Linked DNA regions of Homo sapiens: all the other regions are linked to region 1. Evidence: fine-mapped expression QTL. A gene starts in region 1. Each other region holds a variant in brackets. All regions are shown on one strand. Distances are between the middles of the regions.

Region 1 (5,146 bases):
TTTCGCTGCACAAATCCCCAGTGGAGAGAAGGTCTTGGGAAATGCAGCAGAAAAATGTTGACTGCAGCAGACAACGATGGAGCTGGGGGTTGGGATATAGATTGATAGCACCCATAAAATATCTCCAGGCTGAAGCAGGTACCCTAGGAGTTTGAACATCCACCTACATTCAGGGATGGGATAAGGTGGAGGATTCAGGCTCAAATGAGCAGCCACAGAGCAGGTTCCCCAGACTCCCTACACACCGTTTCGACCTTTTCCAGAGTCCATTAGTACCCACCGGAAATGGAAATGTTCTAATTGTGGTCCTCTGTGCCATCATCAAGACCCTCAACTCCCTTCATTACCTCTTAAATTGACTTTAGGACCTACTGCCAGAAGGATGTTCTTAACCAAGTCAGAGAGAGAGAGAGAACATTTTCTCAAGAACCATGCTGGAACAGCCACCATGTTCCCACTTTTCCAGCCTCCACCTCTCCCCCATGGCTGAGGGTGAGGTACTCTGTGACTCTCAATGAGCTCTAATTCAGTCTTGGACATCTCCAGCCCCAAGTCGTCTGGGTTCCAAATCTCCGTCAATCGCTTATCTCTTCCCACATGAGTTCTCCCCTGACTCAAGAAAACACTATAGAACTGTCCCCTGTCCTGGGACCCTCTTCCCTTCTTTTCCACTTGGCTTCACGTGGAAAGTCCTGCACCCATCCCAGAAGACACCTCAAGTGCAACTCAAGAATGTGTCCTGTCAGGAGAACGGAAGCATCTCCTGGGATGTGCAGAAGCCACACTGGGTGCACCCACCAGCAGCAGCAGCGGCGGCGGCGGCGGCGGCGGCGGCGGCGGCGGCGGCAGCAGCAGCAATATTCATTAGTCATTCCTGGAGGAAGCCCCCCCAGCTCTCAACCCTAGGAGAATTTCCCCGCCACTCTGGGAGGCTTCCATCCAGGCTGGGATGACTTTGGATTCTTGAGTTGCTTTCTGCAGAAGCGGGACTAACCAGGGCTCCCAACTACTGTACTGCAAAGAAGCGCGCTGCATTGCTGGGCATGCCCCCAAGCCCGGCCTGGCTGCCCCATCAAAGCCTCCAAGTGCCCCCACGGGGTCGAGGAGGACTCAGGGTTCCCCTGGAATGCCTGAAGCCGGCTTGCCTCAGGCAGCCTGAAGGGAAGACCACACCTCGTCCAGCATAAGGCGGCTAGCAGCTACGCCGCGCGCGGGGCTGGCTCCCGGAGCTCTCTGCCACCCAGCGCTGTGCCCGGGAACTCGGCTTCCCAGGGGAGGAAGAGCCAGCCCGCGGGGCTCTTCCCCAGCCTGGAAGCGTAGGCACTCGGCCGAGGCCAGTGGCTTCCCAGGCCCGGGTCTCAGCCTGGCTGACTGGGAGACTCTCCCGATAGCCCGGCACATCCCTCCTCACCCGCTCCGCCCCCTCCAGGCCCCAGAGGCCCCCTCCCCTGACAGCTGACCTCCAGTGCGCCCCCAACACTTTCTCTGCCAGCTGCTGGCTGTCGCCCCCACACATCAGCTCCCACCTCTCCGCCACCTCCAACCCGGCCGCCGCCTCACCCCCAGCCCGCGGGGGAGGCTCCGCGCGCCAATCGAGTCCAGCGCCTCCCAGCAAGTTAGGAGCGAAGCCGCCGCCTTCGCGATCCCAGTCTTCCCGGGTTCCCGGGCGGCGTCCCCGCCACCCTTGCGGGCGGATCCGGGGGGGCGCGCAGAGCTGGAGAAACTTTCTCCGCCTTAGGGTGGGGGGCACCGGTGCAGATACTCACGCCGGGGTCAGCGCTCGGAGCCATCCTCCCGCTCTCGGCCCCGCCGCCTAGGGGCGTGGGAAGCGGGCGCTCGCTGCCGCCTCTGCCGCCGGCGCCGCCGCCTGCTTGCTCCCAGCCCCGGTCCCGGGCTGGCCTCGAGCCTCCCGCCCCGACGCCGCGCGCTCGCTTTATACAACTCCACTCGAGCGCGCCCGGTCTTATGTAAAGGCTGGCGGAGGCCCGCAGCCAATGGCGCGGCAGCTGGAGCCGGGGGCCCGGGGTGGGGGGCGCCGGCGCGGCCAATCGCGGCCCCGAGAGCCCGGAGAGCCGGGCGTGGGGAGGGAGCGCCTCCCCGCGCTGATTTAGGAGCCGGGATTGCGGTGGCAGCAGCCGGCAGCCAGGCTGGCCCGGCGCGGCGCGGCGGCCACTGGGGTGGGCGGCGGCGAAGGCGGCGGCGAGGGCGGGCGCCCCCCGCGCCCCGCCACTGCGTCGCGTAACCTTCAGGCGGCAGCGAGGCCTGGCGAGGAGGGGAGAGGGCGCCTGGCTGGGCGCTGGGGGCCCCAGGCCGGAGGGAAGCGAGGGTCCCTCGGGAGGCAGCGCAGGGAAGGAACGCGAAGGGGGAGGGGAGGGCGGCGAGCCCCAGGACCCCGCGGCCACCCCTGCGCGCAGGACCGAGGGTGGAGGCGGGAGCGGCTGCACTGCCTTCCCATTTCCCCCCAGGATAGCGATCTGGCGTCGCCGGGCCGGGCCAAAGCGGCCGAGCGAGCCGCGCTGATGGCGAGATTTCGACTACGGAGCTAGAGCCGAGCCGATCTTTATCCAGCCTGGGGACGTGTCCGAGCACCTCCCGGGGACTGCTCAGTATGGAGAGCAGGGCTCCGCGACGGCCCCCGCAGGCGGGGAGCGGGCGAGCGCAGCTCGGAGATCAGGCGCGCAGAGGCCCAGGCGGCTGCGGGCAGCGCCGCTTCTACCCCACCCCGTCCCCACCAGCAGTGCCCCCACCCCATCCCACCTAGTCCCTACCCCAGCAGTGGCCGAGTCGGGCCTGGCCCACCCGCTCCTGCCGCCTGCGTCCTACTAGCCTCCCTCACCGCTTTGATCACAGGTACTGCCCGCCTCTCCTCGCCCCCAACCCGCTGCCTTGGTGGTGGTGGGGGGATGGTTTCTGCCTCTCTGGACCAGGGGAATGGGGGTGCTAAGCGCCAGAAAAACACACTTGATCAGCAATGCTCAAAATACCCCTGTTCAGGCAGGAAACTGGCCTTGGTGGGTCACACTCTGAAGGCAAATCCTTTATTTTACGCCTAGAATAGAGCCTGGCACATAGTAGGCGCTCAGTGTTTATTGAATGAATTCTGAGCTTCCATGAGTGAGGTCTTTGGGTTTCTGAAAGCCAGGTAAAGGGGCCACAGAAGAGAAAGACTTGGGAATCCACCATCGGAGAGGGAAGGAGCTAGGACTGTTTTCCCATCCGTTGACGCTTTTGTGACCATCACCCACTAGTCTGGCTTCTGGGCCCTTGACTCTTAGAATGATTTGAATGTGTTCTTTTATAGAGGGCCACACATCCAGCCTCTGGCCCCTGTTATCCACAGATTTTGAGCAGAACTACCAGGACCTAGTCTGGGCTCTGTTTTCAGGTCTCTGTGATCTTCCTCTGAAAAGAAATAGCTAGGCACAGACAAACTTTCTGGCTTTTTGAGCCCCCATCAAGCCTGTAAGGTTGTGGGCCCCTTTGAAAATCTGGCAAAAATTACTGAATCATTTTTCTAGAAAAATATACAAACACACACATTTACACACACACACACACACACACACACACACACACACACACACACCTTGAGTATACTTTCAGGATCATTAGGAACCCTGAGTCTCTTGGGGCTCGGTCCAATGTCAACCTGTTTCTTCAGGGGTCTAGGACAGTAGTTTATAATCACCCTCCTTTTGGGGATCACAGACCCTTTAGAACCTTTCAAGAATCTCATAAATGTTATGGATCTGTTGCTTATAAAAATGCTCACTCACATACACACATGTTGACATGCAACTTTAGGAGGGTTCGTGGATCATTAAAACTTAATCTAGGGCCCTGATTAAGAACCTTCATCTATCGGCAAATAGACTCTGCCCCCAAGGCCATATCTGATCCCCAGCTCTCTGCATAAGGAGTCCAGTTGGCTCTGCACCCTGCTGGAACATGCCACCACCTTGTTCTGAGGGCATCTGAGTCATCTGGCCAAGGCTCTGGCACCTGAGAGACTGTCTCCACACTTTCTCTGCATCTTGGTCCCCGCCACCCTCTTAATGTGGAAATAAGTTGCAGGTTGTCATATTATGTCTGATCTATGAGCATTCCTTAGCCAGAAACTCCAACTCAGGGAGACAGCAAGTGACTGGTAATTAACCAGTTTCACTCAATCCCAAACATCTGAGCACACCTTTCTTGGTTTTTGTTCTCACCTCTCTCTTCTCCGGTGAAGCTGTGCACAGCAGCCCCAGCTGTAGCGCCTCACCTCACCCAGACCCGACAGATTTAGTAACCAGCACGGTAATTATCAGCATTAGCCAACCAGATGTGAATAGGTGCTCTGTGCAAAATAACTCTGTAATAATCTCACACTTTCCTGCAGCTAGCCAGGTAAGGTTACAACAGACCAAAGGTGCTAGGGAAGGACAGAAAAATGCAGGAAATGATGGAGATGTTCCAGCCAGGAAGTGCTCCAGGGAATACAATCTGGCTTCAGCACTTGAACTTGTGAGGGTTTAGCCCAGTGGGCCAGGCAGTCCTGGTTGGAAAATTTCTCATTTCTCTGATGTCCTCGATGTCCATTTGCTCAGTTCATGTCAGTGTCTGCTCAGAGCTCCAGCCCTTCCCCACCCCCAATCCCGTGAGAGACCTCTTGTCCTCCCACATTGCCCAAACACAGCTTTCTTGAGGCACATGCACACGGTTATAGACTGAATTGTGCCTCTCCGGACCAAATTCACATAGTGAAGCCCTAACCCTTAGTGTGACTGCATTTGGAGATAAGGCCTTTAAAGGGGCAATTAAGGCAAAATGAGATCATAAGGGTGGACCCTAATTCAATAGGACTAGTGTCCTCGTAAGAAGAGAGAGAGATACCAGAGATCTCCCATTTCTCTCTGTGCATCCTCAGGAGAAAGCCTGCCTGAGTAACAGGAGGAGGCCATCTGCAAGCCAGGAGCAGGGCCTCTGCAGAAACCAGACCTGCCAGCACCTTGATCTGGGACTTCCAGGCTCCAGAACTGTGAGAACATTAACTTCTGTGGTTAAGCTCCACGTCTGTGGTATTGGCTATGGCAGTCTGAGCTGACTAATACACACATTTTCAGCACACCCTTACCCCATGCATCTTGTTCAGGCTCCAGTCCTT
Region 2 (5,146 bases), 160 kb before region 1:
ATTGCTGGAAGTGAAACCAGGAGGTTAAACGTCCTGGCACAGATTTTATGACAATATCTGCATTTCATCAGTCAGGCACTGCAGCAAGTACCTTATAGGCTCGAGGAAGCCTCACAACAACTCTATGAGGATTTTATCACTGCCTCTATTTTGTGGATGAAGAAACTGAGGCTCAGAGATGAAACAACTTCTTAAGGCCACTTCCAAATGCCTGGGTGGAGGGTCTGGATTTCAAGTCCATTTGATCCCAGAGTTTCAGTGTGAAGGGAAAATTTTAAGGACAGTTGAAAGGAAGGGAGAGGGGAGGGCCATAGGATTTGTGCACAGCTCTAAGAACGAACATGGCATTTTGGCACATGTGAGACACCTTCTGCAGTGGGAGGAGGCACTGAGACTTTCCAATGACTGGGTGACACGAGGGCAGCCCCAGGCTTCCTTCTCCCTCTTTCTTCTGTGTCAGCCTTCGAGGGCTCTAAACCTTGAGTCTGGGGATCTGAACTGCAGAGAGGGTGTATGTTTGGCTCACTTTCCTTCCTTTGGCCTAAACTTGTCCTTCTGCCATGGTCTCCATAAGCAGTTGGGGAAAGAGGATGTGCTTTTTTCCTGTTCCAGGAGCTCTACAGCCAGGTCTGGGGTGGAGGGAGGGAAGTTAGCCCTTAGATTTGTGGGGAGGGTGCATTAAATGACTCTAGGGGATGAGATCCTTCCTGGCTGCTCTGGGGCTGGCCATGAAGAAGGAGAACCAGCTAGCTTTAGGGGAATTATTCTGGCCCCAGACTGCTTTCCTGCTGGCAGGCAGGCTGAGGGCATGAGGTTCTGGGCGGGACGTTCTGGGAACGGGTGATACAGATTCTCCATCTGCCGCACCCTTCTCCTGACCCTGCCTCCCTCCTCACAGCTGAACAGGCTCCTCTCTGCACTCGGGACCCCCATTCAGATCTGTATTTAATCCCAGCTGAGTTCTAAGGACCAAGTATGGTTCTTCTGTTACTTGATGGGCACGTATCCTGACTCAGTTTCCATGTCAGCAAAGTGGGAAGGATAAGCCCTGCCTCTCTTATTCCTGATCTTGTTCATACACTTGGGCTTCTGGAATACCTGGAGCTTTCTGGAGAAGGGTGCTGGGAGCAGCCTGGAGCTGAGCTCTTTTGAGGAGCAGCCGGCAACCCGGCAGGAAAAAGGACCAGACGGGGGTGCAGATGCCTTGGGAAAGTTGCAGCTCCTTTTTGGGCCTTGGTTTCCACGTCTGAAAAGGAGGGAAGAGGACTAGATGACTTCTCAGGTGTTCCTGGATTTAAAGCTCTAGGATTCTGTGATTGTTGAGGGCCAAATTCCCAGGCCAGTTCACTAGCTCCTGGTGACCTCTGCTCTGTATGGCCCAGTCCATGCCATGCCCGCCTAGCTCAGTTCACTTTGTTTTATGACTATTCTTTCTGGGAATGGCACTGCATGAGAATTCAGCAGAACATAGCACAGCCCAGGCCCCAGGAAGGTTGGCTCTGCACCTTATGGCCATTTGCCATCTTTTTCTGGTGAATCTGTCAGTTCTCCAGAGGTGGCCCCGTCCTGCCCATCTCTCCCACCACAGGTGTCCTGGGTGGCAGCAGGGTGTACCGGGAAGCACAGGAGCTTTGGCACTGAACGGGCCCGGGGCTCCATCCTGAACGTGGCTACTTAATAATAGTATCTCTAATTTGTTGGGGGCTTTCTATGTGCCAGGCACCATGTCAAGTCTAATATAATAACTCTGTGAGGTATTATCCCCATCTTGCAGATGGGAAAACTGAGGTTCAAAGACACCTTACCTACTTTAAGTCTTTGCTCAATGCCTCTTTCTCAGGGAGCCCCCCTGCCCCCGCCGCTATTTAAAATGGCATTCCACCTCCATCCGGGCCTTCCCGGATGGCCTTGATGTTACTCTTCTCCAGCCCTCCATAGCACGTATCATGCTCCAACATGCTACAGACTTTCCTTATTCTGGGTATTGTTTAGTGCCTGCCACGTCTTGCTAGGGCAGGGACCTTTGCCAGTGTTGTTCACAGATGTATATCCCAAGCCACTAGAACAACATCCAGCACACAGTAGGCGTTCAGTCACTGTACATCACATGAACAACTGGTTAAATAACTTCCCCAGTGTCAGTTACCTAGAGATCGCACAGCATAAGGCTTAAGAACCCAGGCTTTGGAGCTAGTCATGAGGTTGAATTACAGCTCTTGCCACTTTAGCTAGCTATGTGACTTTGTGTAATTTACTGTTTCTGAGTCTCAGTTTCTCTGGTAATAAAATAGACTCATAACATTTATATTCTGGGATGGGTGTGAGTATTCATGGAGACATGGATGTAAAGTTCTTGGCATATGGCAGGCATTGCATAAATGTTAGCTGCTTTCCTGGAGGATGTTTTTCTTCTCTCTTGCGTCTCATTTTCCCTCTGGTGGCCTATTTTTTGACCACTTCACTGTCAACAGTAGTTCCTTAGAGGACAAGCCACCGTGGGAGAGGCTGGCGTCATCTGTGGTGTTAACCAGCCCATGTTCTCTTGCCTTCCTTCCAGGATATGCCTGTTGCTACAGACACAACAGCAACTTCTGGCATGTTCCTGGCCCCTGTGGCTGGGGTTCTGGCCTCAGAGAAGACTGGCCCTGGGCACAGGGAGGCAGGGAGGGGCTCGGTTTGCCTTCTGGGCTGGAAGTCTGGGTGGAGGTTCAGCCTGGAATCTGTTGGAAGAACTTGGCTGGCTCCCTGCAAAAATGAAGTGCTCATCTTCCTGTCTACACGGGGCTCTTGGAGTCTGGAGCGGAGTTCCTGCTTCGGCCGAGGTCCAGTGGCACTGGCCTGGGTGTGATACCCAGACCCTGGGAGGGGGCCATAGCAGCCAGAGTGACACATAATCAAACTCCTGGCCCTCAGAATGGCACCTTCCCAGAGTAGGGTTGGCAACCGTGTAGATGCTTGAAGAGGCCTAGTGGATGGTTTACCATTCTGCCTCAGTGAAGGTTGGCTGAGCCCGCCTGGCGAGGGGACTCTCGACATTAGCAAGCACTGCCACCTCTTC[T/C]TGCAGACTTGAACGTGACCGTGGGGAGGACTATTTCAGATCACTAGGCCTCCAGGGGCTCCATTTTTCCCCTCCCAATCCTGCTCTTGATCCTGGGCAGCATGAGTGACTGTGGCTTTTGCTTAAACCAATTCACCATCCCAAATGAAGAAGGGAGTGGTAGTTGAGAGTGCCAGCTGACAGCCAGACTCCTGGGATCCAGTCCTGCCTTCGTCTGTCTGGGCTGTATGACCCTGCACAAACCATTTAGCTTATCTGTAAACGTGGGATAATTACAATACCTTCCTCTTGAGATTATTATGAGGATTAAACGAGTTGATTATTGTAAAGAGTTTAGATTCAACCCAGACACGCCAAGCCCACTAAATGTAAGCTATTATTGTCATTTTAAGGGGTATGTGCCTGTGAAGAGGGAGTATTCTTGAGCAGAATAAAAATGGTATTATTCTTATTATTTCTTTTTTGTTGAAAAATGGGGAGCATTTTTGTGGCAGCACTGGCCCACCTTCCCACTGGAGTGAGTTGTGGCTGCCTGGTGCAGGCAGGTGGGGCACCAGCTCCTCCATTTGCATAATCCCTTCCGGGTCCATTTCATTACTTGACTGCCCCTAAAGGCATTTGTTATTTTTGTTACAAATTAAAGTGTAGCATAAGGCAACAAAGATGTCAGGAGCCTAGGTGGGGCTAAGGGACAGGGAAAAGACAGACTTATCTGTGTGCAGGAGGGGACGGAACGGTTTGGGCTCCCACGGGTCTCAGAGAAAGGGATTAGAAGAAAGAGGGGAATGGGAATGCTGAGCCTGGGTAGCTTGGGGGTGGCTTTGCACCCGCAAATCTGTGGCTGGTATAGCACAGACCAGTAGATGCATTGAATTTGAGGCACCTGTTCAAAAAGCCTGTACTGCTAGCTCAATGAGGAGGCTCTGTTTTTTTTTTTTTTTTTTTTTTTTTTTGGTAAGGGGGTAGGTAATGTTGAGTGGGTTCACTATCCACCTGTCCTCTGTATCTTTCAGCCTTGTATCTCTTGCAACACAAGCATCTTGGGGGCAGGGGACTTGTCCACCTCATTAGAGGGTCTCTATCACATTCCTCATGGGAGGAACCTAGTGCTTGTCATACAGGATATTCTCAATAAATGCTTGCTGAATGAATATGTAAATGAATGAATGCAGAGAGCTTGCTTTCTGGTATAGCAACCTGAGAATTCAGCTCAACTTTTTAGAAAGCCCCTTGGTGTCCCACTCCCATCCCATGCACTTGGCTCCTCTATCTGGCTGGAGGGAAGGCAGCGTAGGGGTGGCAACAATGTTACCTTCACTTACCATTACATACCTAGAGCGTAGCTCAGTACCTGGCACATAATAGGTGCTCAACAAATATTACTTTCACTTACCATTGTATGCCTAGAGCCTAGCTCAGTACTGGGCACACAGTAGGGGCTCAACAAATATTGCTTTCACTTACCATTGTATGCCTAGAGCCTAGCTCAGTACCTGCACATAGTAGTAGGGGATCAACACATATTACTTTTACTTACCATTGTTACCTTCATTTACCATTGTACGCCTAGAGCCTAACCAAATATTTGGCACATTGTAGGTGCTCAATCAGTATCTGTTGAACTCATGAATGAATCAAATGGAAGCCTTATCCTGGAGTCTGAGTGCTGCAGTGGTGCTCTTATCAGCTGTGGGAACTTAGAACTCCTCTTTGCAACTCACTGGACCCCACTCACCCAACAGGATCACATGACACAGATATACCCTGTTATATAAAACTCATTGTGAAGGCATTCATGGTTGTCACTTATAAGGCATCATCTGAAGTCTGCTGTCACCCTGAACCCCCTGATGTCCTTGGCAGGCCATCTCTGTAGTTGTCTTGTCCCTTATTTCTTGTGCTGTTGTGTATGGACAGTCAATGGGCTCTGTTATCTTGTCATTTACCACTGCATTTGGAACCATTCCTCCATGGGTTTTGGGTTTTACTTATCTCACTATCTTAGATCCACTTTGTTCATTTTTTAAAAGGCAGCAGCTTCCAGAAGGACTAGGGAATAGTCTGAACAGTGACAGAGCTGCCTGTTAC
Region 3 (5,146 bases), 63 kb before region 1:
CAAAAGCAGTTAAGTAACTTGTCCAGGGGACTGTAAACATCATTGGATTGAACCCCCTTTTTCATTTCCACCCATGAAATCTCCCCTTTCTTTTGTAGCTGCCAGATGTACTTGAATACTCCCAATGTTGGAACACTTACTACCGCCAGAGGCAACCCTTTGCTTTTTCTTTCTTTCTTTCTTCTTTTTTGGTAAGCTCCTACTTTGTGGAAAGTTATTCTCTATACTGATTGTAATGGAGTTGTTGTTTTTTTTTTTAAACTGGATAGTTGAGTTGGAGATACTCATGTGAGGTGGCTGCTCCCTAAAGTAAAGTCATTTTAGCCTCTATGGGCTATATTAATAGAGACATGTGTAATGAACTGAAGGAAGTGACAGGCCTGCTTTTCCCTGGGCTGTGCAGCCATGCTCAGAGTGTCATGTTCAATTCTGGGCTCCTCAGTGAACTGGGGCAGGCAGTTGTCGAACTGAGCTGTGACTGAAGAAGGGTGGTCTAGTCAGTGAGAGAAGCTGAAAGCAGGATTCAGAGGTTCTGATGGAGGTGGAGATACCTGACTTGGAAAGGAGATGACAGATGGGGCAGGGGAGAGGTGATTGTGATGGCTGCCACTTGGGAGCAGCCTGGAGGGACATAAGGCTGGCCTGTTCTAGGTCATTTCTGAGTTGACTCAGGCCAAGGATAGAGCCAAGGCCACTACATAGGTAGGGAAAGCTGATTTTCTTTCTTTTTTGAGACAGTCTCACTCCATCACCCAGGCTTGAGTGCAGTGGCATGATCTCAGCTCACTGCAACCTCCACCTCCTGGGTTCAAGCAATTCTCATGCCTCAGCCTCCTGAGTAGCCACTACAGGCATGTGCCACTATACGTGGCTAATTACGGGCATGCGCCACTCCACTACACCAGCTAATTTTTGTATTTTTAGTACAGACCGGGTTTTGCCATGTTGGCCAGGCTGGTCTTGAACACCTGGCCTCAAGTGGTCTGCCCCCCTCAGCCTCCCACAGTGCTGGGATTAGAGGCATGAGCCACTGTGTCCAGTCTGATTTTCTTTTTTAAGTGCACATTTTAGTTTAGGATAGTCTTAAGTTTACAGAAAAATTGCAAGGGTAGTATAGTGAGTTCCCACACATGCCCTGCCCAGTTTCCCCTATCATTAACATCCTACATTAGTATGTTACATGGGTCACAATTACTGAACCAGTATCAATATATGATTATTTACTAATATCCACACTTCATTCAGATTTCTTTAGTTTTCCCCTAATGTCCCTTTTCTGTTCCAGGATCCCACCTAGGATACCACGTTACATTTAATTGTCATAGCTCTTTAGCTCCTCTTCGCCATGACAGTTTCTCACTTTCCTTGGTCTTGATGACCTGGACAGCTTTGAGGGGTACTGGTCAGGTATTTTTGCAGAATGTCCCTCAGTGGGATTTGTCTGATGTTTTTCTCAGGGTTAGACTGGGGTTAGTGGGTTTTTGGGAGGAAGACCACAGAAGCACCGTGCCATTTTCATCTCATCATAACCAGGGCACACACTCTCAACATGACTTGTCCCTGCTGATGTTGACCTTGATCACCTGGCTGAAGCTGTGTTTGCTGTGTTTCTCCATTGTAAAGTCACCCCCCCCCCCCCGACATCCTACATGCTTCAGAAGGAAGTCACTATGCGGCACCTACGCAGGAGTAGGGAGTTTTGCTTCAGCTCCTCTGGGGTGGTGTATCGACATCAATTATTTGGAATTCTTCTATCTGGGAGATTTGTCTATTCTCCCTCATTTATTTATTTATACAATCATTTATTTATATCAGTATAGCTTCATTGATATTTATTTGTACTTTAGGTTATAATCCAATACAACTTTATTTATGTTGTTGCTCAAATTGCTGCAGCTTTAGCCATTGGGAGCTCTTTCAGTTAGCTCCTCTGTCTCTTTGATTCATCCCATCATGGCGGCTTTTCAAGCACCTCCTTACTGTCTGCACTACCAGATGCTCCAGGCTCACTTTGTATATTTCTTGTCCCATTCCTAGAATCAGCCATTTCTCCAAGGAACCTTGTTTCCTTTTGCTGGAGAATGGTATTAGAAACCAAGATCTGGGGGCTAGGTGTGCTTGTTGATACTGGAGTGTGAGTTGCTTCTAGGGCCTCTGAGATGACAGATCAAGGAAATATATGTGTGTATACTAACCCATGTATAGACATTTATCTATAAATATTTCTATATGTAACCATCTGTATCTATATTATGTTCACACTGTCTCCAACTCTAATCCATTACCACATGAATCATCCTATCTTAGGGGAGACTGATTTTTAAACAACATTAAAAAAAAACATTCTGCAAAGTTGGATCTGGTTGCTTCTGGAAGTAGTAAGTGCTCCCTCACTGAGTGTATTAAGCAGATTGGGAAGAAATAAGGAAAGGAGGGGTCTGATGGGTAGAATTGGAAAAATTCCATTTAACTATACTCAAGGTCCCTTTCAACCCAGTGATTGTTGAAACAGAAGTGCCATATAAGGAAAGGTACATCCAAGGTACACATGGCTTCCCGGGGGCATTCTTT[G/A]TCTTCCGTCTTTCAGGAGTCTGAGATCTGGGCAAGGAGAAAGAGCTGGCATTTAGACAAATAAAGGATACACCATTCAACAGGTAGGAAATTTATGGGATTTGCAATCCAAAGAAGAGAAAACAGGCTTAAAAAATAAATGAAGCTCAAAAAGGTTTTAAATTCACAGATGACAGAGCCAGAATGGATTATGAAAGGGGAACGATGCTGGCTTGTGGGAAGGACACTTGCCAAGGTGTTGACATCTGAGGAAGTAATTCTGCTGCTCCCTTAAGGTCCTGGGTGTGCACAGAGGAGCAATTCTTTTTGTTTTTGTTTTTTTGAGGCAGAGTCTCGCTCTGTCGCTTAGGCTGGAGTGCAGTGGCACTATTTTGGCTCACTGCAACCTCCACCTCCCAGGTTCAAGCGATTCTCCTGCCTCAGCCACCCAAGTAGCTGGGATTTCAGGCACGTGCCACCATGCCTGGCTAATTTTTTTTGTATCTTTAGTAGAGATGGGGTTTCACCGTGTTAGCCAGGATGGTCTCAATCTCCTGACCTTGTGATCTGCCCGCCTCCCAAAGTGCTGGGATTACAGGTGTGAGCCACCACGCCCAGCTTGCAATTCTTTATATTTTACTGCAGCAGCCCAGGATCTAGTCGGGGTAAATGGGGCAGGCCAGAGTCTGAGAAGGAAATAAGGAATTGACTGTCCTGAACACACAGCAAGGCTGAATTCCCCAGGAAGGCAGTGCCGCCCCAGCTTTAGGACATGTTAGAAATAGGATGGCCACCCTACTGCAGGAGAAATGATCTTTCTCAACCAGCAGCTCTTCCTTCTTCCTGAAGCCTTGTCTGAAAAGACCATGAATCACCTCTTGCGGAAGGAATAGAGATGATGGGACAAAGAGAGAATTCCTACACTAGCGGGTGCTCACTAAAAATGCAGACCGTGGGTCCTATCCCCAAAGATTTTGAGCCAGTACATCTGGAGATGAGCTCAGAGATTTATTTTTAAAACCATATCTCTAGGTGATGCTGATACTGGAATTTCTCAGTCACATTTGGAGCTCTGCTGGTGGTCTTAATACCAGAGTTTGCCCAGGACAGTCTCAGTTGGTTTGCTTTCCTTTCCCCCCCATGTCAAAAGTGCCCTCATTTGGGTGACAAATTATATGGTCACTCCCTTCTTAACACTGATATGTCTTCAAGCAGCAGCAGAAGTCACATGTTGATAGGCACCTTTTTTGGCCAACGATGCCTGTACCATCCCAGCTCCAATCCAAGAGTGTATTCACCCTTGAAAGTGAGGCTTCTCAACTGGGGGAGGAGGAGCTTCTAGAATTCCTGGGGTCAGGGGACTTGGGAGCCAGGGAAGAGTAGATTGGCAAAGCTCTCAGGTGTTTTGATGCTCCATCCCCTCCCAGCCCCTTGACAATCACTACTGTAAAGAAGGAGCCAGCCTGTGGGGACAGGGCAGCCACTCCAGCCCGAGCCTTCCTTTGGGCCCCTTGCCCTTCCTTTCTCTTTCTCCTCCTCTCTTTCTCCCAAGTCTGCATTTTTCCCTGTCAATATCAAAGGGCTGCCAATGTGCTTTGCTTGTTGATGATGACTCTTGAGATTAAAAGTTAGCTGATCTTTGGACAAATGTAACCATGGAAATCTGAGACATTAACCATTGCCTGCTGGGGACCTCAGATAGGAAGCTCTTATAATCCCTCCACGCTCAGGAGTGATGAGATAGACCATGGACGACCCCACAGAGCCATTGATCAGAAACACAGATCTGATCATGCCTTATCTCCCCACCCAGACCTACTCCCAGCTTGGTAACCCTCAAAATGCCAAAACCACAGCAAAGGGTGCAAATGGTTGCTGACGCTGGAGGCAGTAGGCTTAGTCATTGGGTATCTCCTCTCCCATCCATTTTCACTCCTTGGTGACCTCACACAGTATCAGGGCTTTAAATACCATCTACCCGCTGACAACTCTCAAATTTATATCTCCACCCCAGACCTCTTCCCTGAACTCCAGACTCATATATCCAACTGCCTACTCAACATTGCTCTTGAATGTTTAATAGATATTTCAAACTTAACTTATCAAAAACTGAGCTCCCAGTAGCTCTTCTAGACCTACTCCTGCTGTCTTTCCTTTCCCAACTTCTAGCTTCCAGGTGCTCAGGCCAAAAGCTCCGAGTCTAACTGGATTCCTCTCCCATCCCATACCCAATTCCTATTGGCAAATCCTGTCGGCTCTACCTTACAATATATTAATACACAGAACATGGTTATTTCTCACACTCTGCTAATCTCTGGTTTAAGCCCATCATTTTTCATTTGGATTACTGCAAGAACTTCCTGACAGCTCTCAGCTTCCCCCTTTCCTTCCTTCAGTCTATTCTCAACATGAAAATCAGAGCATCCTTTTAAAGTGCAAGTCGCATCATGTCACCCCTTGGCTCAAAATCCTTCTCCTAACGGCTTTCTTCTCACTCAGAGAAAGAAGCCAGACTGAGCAACCTGTCCTCAGGGCCAGCGTGGTCTGCTGCTGTGGCTGCACTCAGTTCTTATTTGTCACTCCTCTCTGCTTCCTC
Region 4 (5,146 bases), 150 kb before region 1:
CACCTGTAGCTTCCATAGGTGTTGACACATACGGGCTTGTCTCGAGGGCACACGAATGGGAACTGGATGCATTCATTGGTGTCTGCAAGGCGAGGGGAACCACTCACCATGAAGGTGTGGGGCAGCAAGTACCAGCCCAGGCTCTGCCTGCCTATACACTGTCTGGCTTTGGGAATGTGCCTTCCTCGCAGAGCCTCAGTTTCCCTGCTTCAGTTCCCTTGGCTGGCTCCTCCTGTACTTGGTCTCTACATGCTGGGGGCAGGGGGTGGGCACTCAGGCTTGGTCCTGGGTCCTCTCTTCTGTCTACTACAATCGTTCTAGGTGATCTCTTCATGCATGGATGATTCCGAAAGTTCTATCTCCAGTCACAACCTCTCCCCGTGGCTCCAGACTCACGAATACAATAACCCATGACCTACTTGACAGCTCCACTTGGATGTCTAAGATGCACCTCATGCTTAATATGTCCAAAATAGAACTCCAGATTCTGCCCTGCCCTGCCCATATTCTGGCCCTCTGTTCTGTCTTCTCTAGCTCAATCAACACCCCCATCATCAATCAGCTGCTCAAGGGGAAATCAGAGCGACCCCTGATTTCTCCGTCTTTCTTGCCCCCTGTGCAATTTCACAGCAGAGCCTGTCCACTCTGCCCCGCAGTCCACCAGTCCACCTCTCTCTGTCACCTCTTTCTCATTCCTCTGCCACCACCCAATTTCCTGCCATCGTGACCTCTTGCCTGGATTTCTGCAGCTGCCTCCTCACAGAATACCTGGCTTCCCCTCTTCCCTCCAATCCACTCTGCAATTCAGCAGCTGGAGGGAGCCTTTAAAAATGTGAATCACATCATGTCACTCCCCAGTTTAGCTTCTAAGGCTCCTAAGAGCAAAATTCAGACTCCCTACAGGGGCCTCATGGACTCTCCATCATCTCCAGGCCATACTGGCATCCCTCCTGCTCCTTCAACACACAAAGCCTTTGTCCTGTCTCCCGCTTTTCACTCCTGCCCTTCCCTCAACTCTTTCTGGGCCTAGATCCTTCTCATCCTTCAGGTCTCAGCTCAGAGTCTTCCCCCCGAGGCCCTCCCTGACCACTCTCTCTGGAACAGTCTCCAGGGAGCACCTTGCTCAGAGGGTTCTGAAATCATCTTGTCCAGGTGTGTGGTCATGCGTTCAGGGTCTGTCTCCCTCCACTAGAATGGATGCCCCTCTTGTGGAGGCGCGGGGGTGGCACTTGGCCTACATCCCCAGCTCCCAGCATGACACTTGCTGTGTACGAGGCACATAACTGCCTGTTGGGCGATGAAAAGGAAGAGGAGGCTGATCTCAAAGGGTCCTTCCTGCAGGCAGAGAAGACTCTGGAATTTCTATGCACCTGCACTATGTGTTTGGAGTGGGGCTGGGTGGGCATGTGGAGAGTGTAGGGGAGTCATTTCCTCCTCCAGCCACCCTTGGCACCACTGCTCCTCCACCTCCCCACCTGTGCTCCTTTGTTCAGACAGTGCCCCCCACCAGAACCATGTCTCCCCTCTCTGTGACTGCCGAACTGCTCCTCATTCCTCAGGGCCCAGCTTGGACCTCACTTTCTCTAGGGCACCTTCTAGGACCCTCCCTAGGCTGGTTTAGGGCCCCTGCTTTGTCATCTCCAAGCCCCTGCCCTCCCCCATCTGGGCCCTGATCACACTGTGTGGTCGACAGCTGTTTACTTTTGTGGCTCTCCATTGGTTTTCAGCTCCTGAGAGTGGTATCTGTCTTGTTTACTCCTGTATCTCAGTAGCAAAGGGTTAATGAGCAGCTGCAGAGTAGACTTGGGAAGAATGCTGGATGAGGGTTCAAGGAAGGAGGGATCCTTGGCCTGACCCCTCCTTGCTGGTCACTGGGATGGAAAGTGTTGGGGGTGAAGGTCTCCTGGACACTGAACTTCTAGGCTGCCCCTTCCCATTCCAGGCTCTTGGGGACTTTCAGAAGGTTCTTGGACCGTCAAGGAGCTGCCATCCTGGTAGTGCTGCAGCTACCTGCCTGCCCCAGTACTGCACCAGGCTGCAGTCTCCGTTCCACACTGTGACCACACTCCATACACTATTTTGCCCCAATGCCCTTGGCAATGCACACCCTTGCCTGCCAGCCCCCTTGCTTGCTGCTCCACATGGACTTGCTGGCCATGGCATGTGGCTATTCCCCCTGTGCCAGGTTGGTGGTGTGTCTCCTTCCCATCTGCAGTTTCTCGGTACTCATGGCAGGAAAACACTGCCAGTTTCCAGAACCGCAGTGATTCAGCCTGTGGGTCACTAATATCACTCCCACCCTGGTGAGTCATGTGGTGGTTGTCT[T/G]GGCATCTGGAGTCCCAGGACAAACAACACCCTCCCCTGTCCTCCTTTCTGCCCCTTGCTTGCACCCTGGACCTTGGCATGAGTCAGGCGGGCATTCCCCAGGGAGATTCCGGCCTCTACCCCATGCCCTGGTGACTGAAGGCAACTCACCCATGCAATGGCCATTTTCCTGCTGGGAGAATCCTTGGCCACACTGTAAGGTGGGCAGAAGCAGAGACATGAGTGAGTTGAGAAGGTCCCATCCCAGGTTCCCTCCTAGTCACAGCCACAGAGTAGTTGTCACCCTAACCACAGTGTGAGGCATGCTCTGAGCTCTGGGCCTGGGGGGAGCCCCCTCCCTTGTAAGACCCTTCCTTTGCGCTGAGAACAGAAGGCTGGCGGGAAGGCCATGAATGGATACGGTTCAGACTCTTGCTCATTTCCCTGTGCAAAGGATCCACACGAGCTGGGACGTCTAACAGAACCTGTCCCTTCTGTAGCATCACCCTGTGACTGAGGCTGGGTCTGTCAGGGCAAAGTGTAATGAGGGCTGGGAGATGCTTTTTGAGGTGTCTGCTCACTGCCCACATTCACTTCTCCAAGAACCTCTCCCTCACACGGGTGGGTGCCTGCAGCCATGCTTGTGTCCCACCTCTCTGGCCAGGGCTGATGGGTGGACATCCTAGCAGGAGGGAAGACTCAAGGCTTTGCAGCAAGAATTTGAACAAATTGACTCAGAGACTTAAGAGTTGGGAGCCGGCCCTGCCAGGCTGTGGAGGCTCTACCATGCCCATATGGGGGTCTCAGAGACAGCAGCCTGGGGTGGGGCAGGGGACTAAAAACGTAACACACATGACACAAAATGTCAATCAACCGTACTGATGAATGAGGTGGGTGGATGGGGATTGTTGGGGAAGAGGGGCCCCTCTCCTCCCAAAGCCAGTGCACTGACAAAGGTCCTTGAGCTCCTAGGGCTGAGGCCATCAAGCTGCCAGTTTCTACTCATCCTGAGCTTCCCTGAGTTTTATGAGTGATCCTCCTTATAAGCCCCCTTCATTTGTGTCAGTTTCAGTGGGTTCCTGTTAATCGCCACCAAGTGAACCCCATCAGAGTTGGAACGACACTGCTGAGATGGGTCCAGAGCTGCTCCTCAAAGAGCCTCCAGAAAACCTGGTGCAGGCTCTGAGCCCCACCCTAGGGCAATAGGAGGTCTTGTCAGAGACTCAGAAAGAACCAGGAGGGCAGCAACAGACCTGGGGTCATTTTAAAACTTTGCTCACAACTGGCTGTACAGCCTTGGTGGGCCTTGGTGGATTTCCTCTCTTAACCTCAGTTTTCTTCCTCTGTAAAATGGGTGCAAAAATGCTTGCCCTGCCAATACACCAGGGATTCTTTGAGAAGCAGAAGAGATGTGGGTGTGATAGTGTTGTGCAAACTACAAATGGAGGGATCAGTATGAAGCCTTCGCTTTGCCAAGATTTCCATCACTCTAGAGGCTGAGTTTGCAGATTCCTGGGAACCCAGCTTCAGCCCATGGGGTTGTGGGTGGTGCCCGCTTTTCTGGCTATGAGGCCCAGATGCCTTTGCCCACCTCCAGTGGGGCTGGGTCCTGAAGTGTGTCCTCATCCCGGGGGTAGAGGATCTCCAGCACTGAGTTCATCTCCCCGCTGGCCACGTTCCGGCTCACCATCTTGCCATCTGGCCACGTCACCTCCACACTGCTGGCTTCATCCTTCCCTGAGGGGCAGAAGGAGAGAGCATCAGCAGCAGAGGAGAGCAGGAGGCTCTCAGCGGAAGCATCAGCATCAACTAATTCATCCATTGAATAAAAGCATGAATTGAGCACTGTTCTAAGTGCTAGGGAAATGGTGAACAAGACAGATTTGAGGTCCCTCCTCTCTGGAGCAATGCTGTCCAATAGACCTGTCTGTCTGCAAGGACAGAAATGTCCTGCATCTGTGCTGTCCAGTACAGTAGCCACTGGTAACATGTGGCTGTTGAGCACTTGAAGTGGGACTCACGTGATTGAAGAGGTGAATTTTCAATTTTATTTAACTCTAATTAATTTAAATTTAATGGCCACACATGGCTGGTGGCTGCCATGTTGGATAGTGCAGCTCTTGAACTCACGTTCTAGCAGACAGGCCAAGCATCAGGAGGCTGTACTGGAGGATACAGTAAGGCCTGTGATAAGCAGGTTGTCTTTGGAGTCTGGCATTCAAATCATGGCTCTACCCCTTACCTGGTATGTTGGAAAGAGCATGGTGGGAAGTGGGTGGGAGACCTGGGGACAAATCCCAGCTGTGCAGCTAACTGGCTTTGTTATCCCAGGAATGCTTCTTGTGTTTCTATTTATTGAGCTCTGCTAAGGGCCAGGCTCTCTCTTGTCACTGGGGATGCCCCTGTTCTCATGGAGTTCCCAGTCCAGTTGGGGAGACAAGCAAACAGATGAACAAATAAATAATGCCAGATATTGACAAAAGTAGGGCAAGTAGGTAAGGAGGAGCTGGGGGTTGCCAGGGCCTTGTCTAGTCAGGTGGTCAGGGACAGCCTCTTAGGGAGGCGGCATTTGCACTGAGCTCTACATAATAACTTGGAAAAAGAGCTGGGCATGGTGGCTCATGCCTGGAATCCCAGCTACTCAGGAGGATGAGGCAGAAGTATTGGCTGAGCCCAGGACTTCAAGGCCAGCCTGGGCAACATAGTGAGACCCTGTTTCTGAAAAAAATAAAAACAAACAAAAAACAACTTAGAAAAGATGGAGTGATAAAGAGATGGCAGGTGGAGGACAGGGGAGAAAGACCATTCTACAAATCTAAGATGCTTACAGAAGATGATGGGA

Which allele goes with the higher level. Alleles are on the strand shown, and positions count from the first base shown. SD is a standard deviation of normalised expression in the study named.
For the expression in unexposed skin of the gene that starts at base 1,939 in region 1, allele C in region 2 goes with a lower level than allele T (small effect, 0.32 SD a copy in GTEx).
As copies of G replace A in region 3, the expression in sun-exposed skin of the gene that starts at base 1,939 in region 1 goes up (small effect, 0.32 SD a copy in GTEx).
For the expression in tibial artery of the gene that starts at base 1,939 in region 1, T is the low allele of the variant in region 4 and G is the other (small effect, 0.28 SD a copy in GTEx).

Evidence for each region. PIP is the estimated chance that this variant, and not a neighbour inherited with it, causes the effect.
Region 2: its variant is the best candidate, but not a certain one, in a credible set for the expression of CRTAC1 in unexposed skin (GTEx, PIP 0.78).
Region 3: its variant is the best candidate, but not a certain one, in a credible set for the expression of CRTAC1 in sun-exposed skin (GTEx, PIP 0.55).
Region 4: its variant is the best candidate, but not a certain one, in a credible set for the expression of CRTAC1 in tibial artery (GTEx, PIP 0.53).

What each region holds. Positions count from the first base shown.
Region 1 is chr10:98,028,683-98,033,828 of GRCh38, forward strand. CRTAC1 (cartilage acidic protein 1) reads right to left here and starts at 1,939. Exons shown (of 15, transcript NM_018058.7): 1 at 1,767-1,939. The coding sequence starts at 1,790.
Region 2 is chr10:97,872,962-97,878,107 of GRCh38, forward strand. The region is part of intron 14 of CRTAC1 (cartilage acidic protein 1); the gene reads right to left. It overlaps MIR3085 (microRNA 3085), which reads right to left and starts at 2,936; the gene lies at 2,852-2,936. RefSeq lists an enhancer at 2,863-3,363. The variant T/C (reference allele first, on the strand shown) is at 3,059.
Region 3 is chr10:97,965,368-97,970,513 of GRCh38, forward strand. The region is part of intron 2 of CRTAC1 (cartilage acidic protein 1); the gene reads right to left. Among named protein-coding and RNA genes, the nearest start is that of CRTAC1, 63 kb to the right of the region's middle. The variant G/A (reference allele first, on the strand shown) is at 2,572.
Region 4 is chr10:97,880,311-97,885,456 of GRCh38, forward strand. CRTAC1 (cartilage acidic protein 1) reads right to left here. Exons shown (of 15, transcript NM_018058.7): 12 at 3,896-4,041; 13 at 2,476-2,518; 14 at 1-82. Among named protein-coding and RNA genes, the nearest start is that of MIR3085, 7.0 kb to the left of the region's middle. RefSeq lists an enhancer at 1,694-2,893 and a silencer at 2,182-2,476. The variant T/G (reference allele first, on the strand shown) is at 2,326.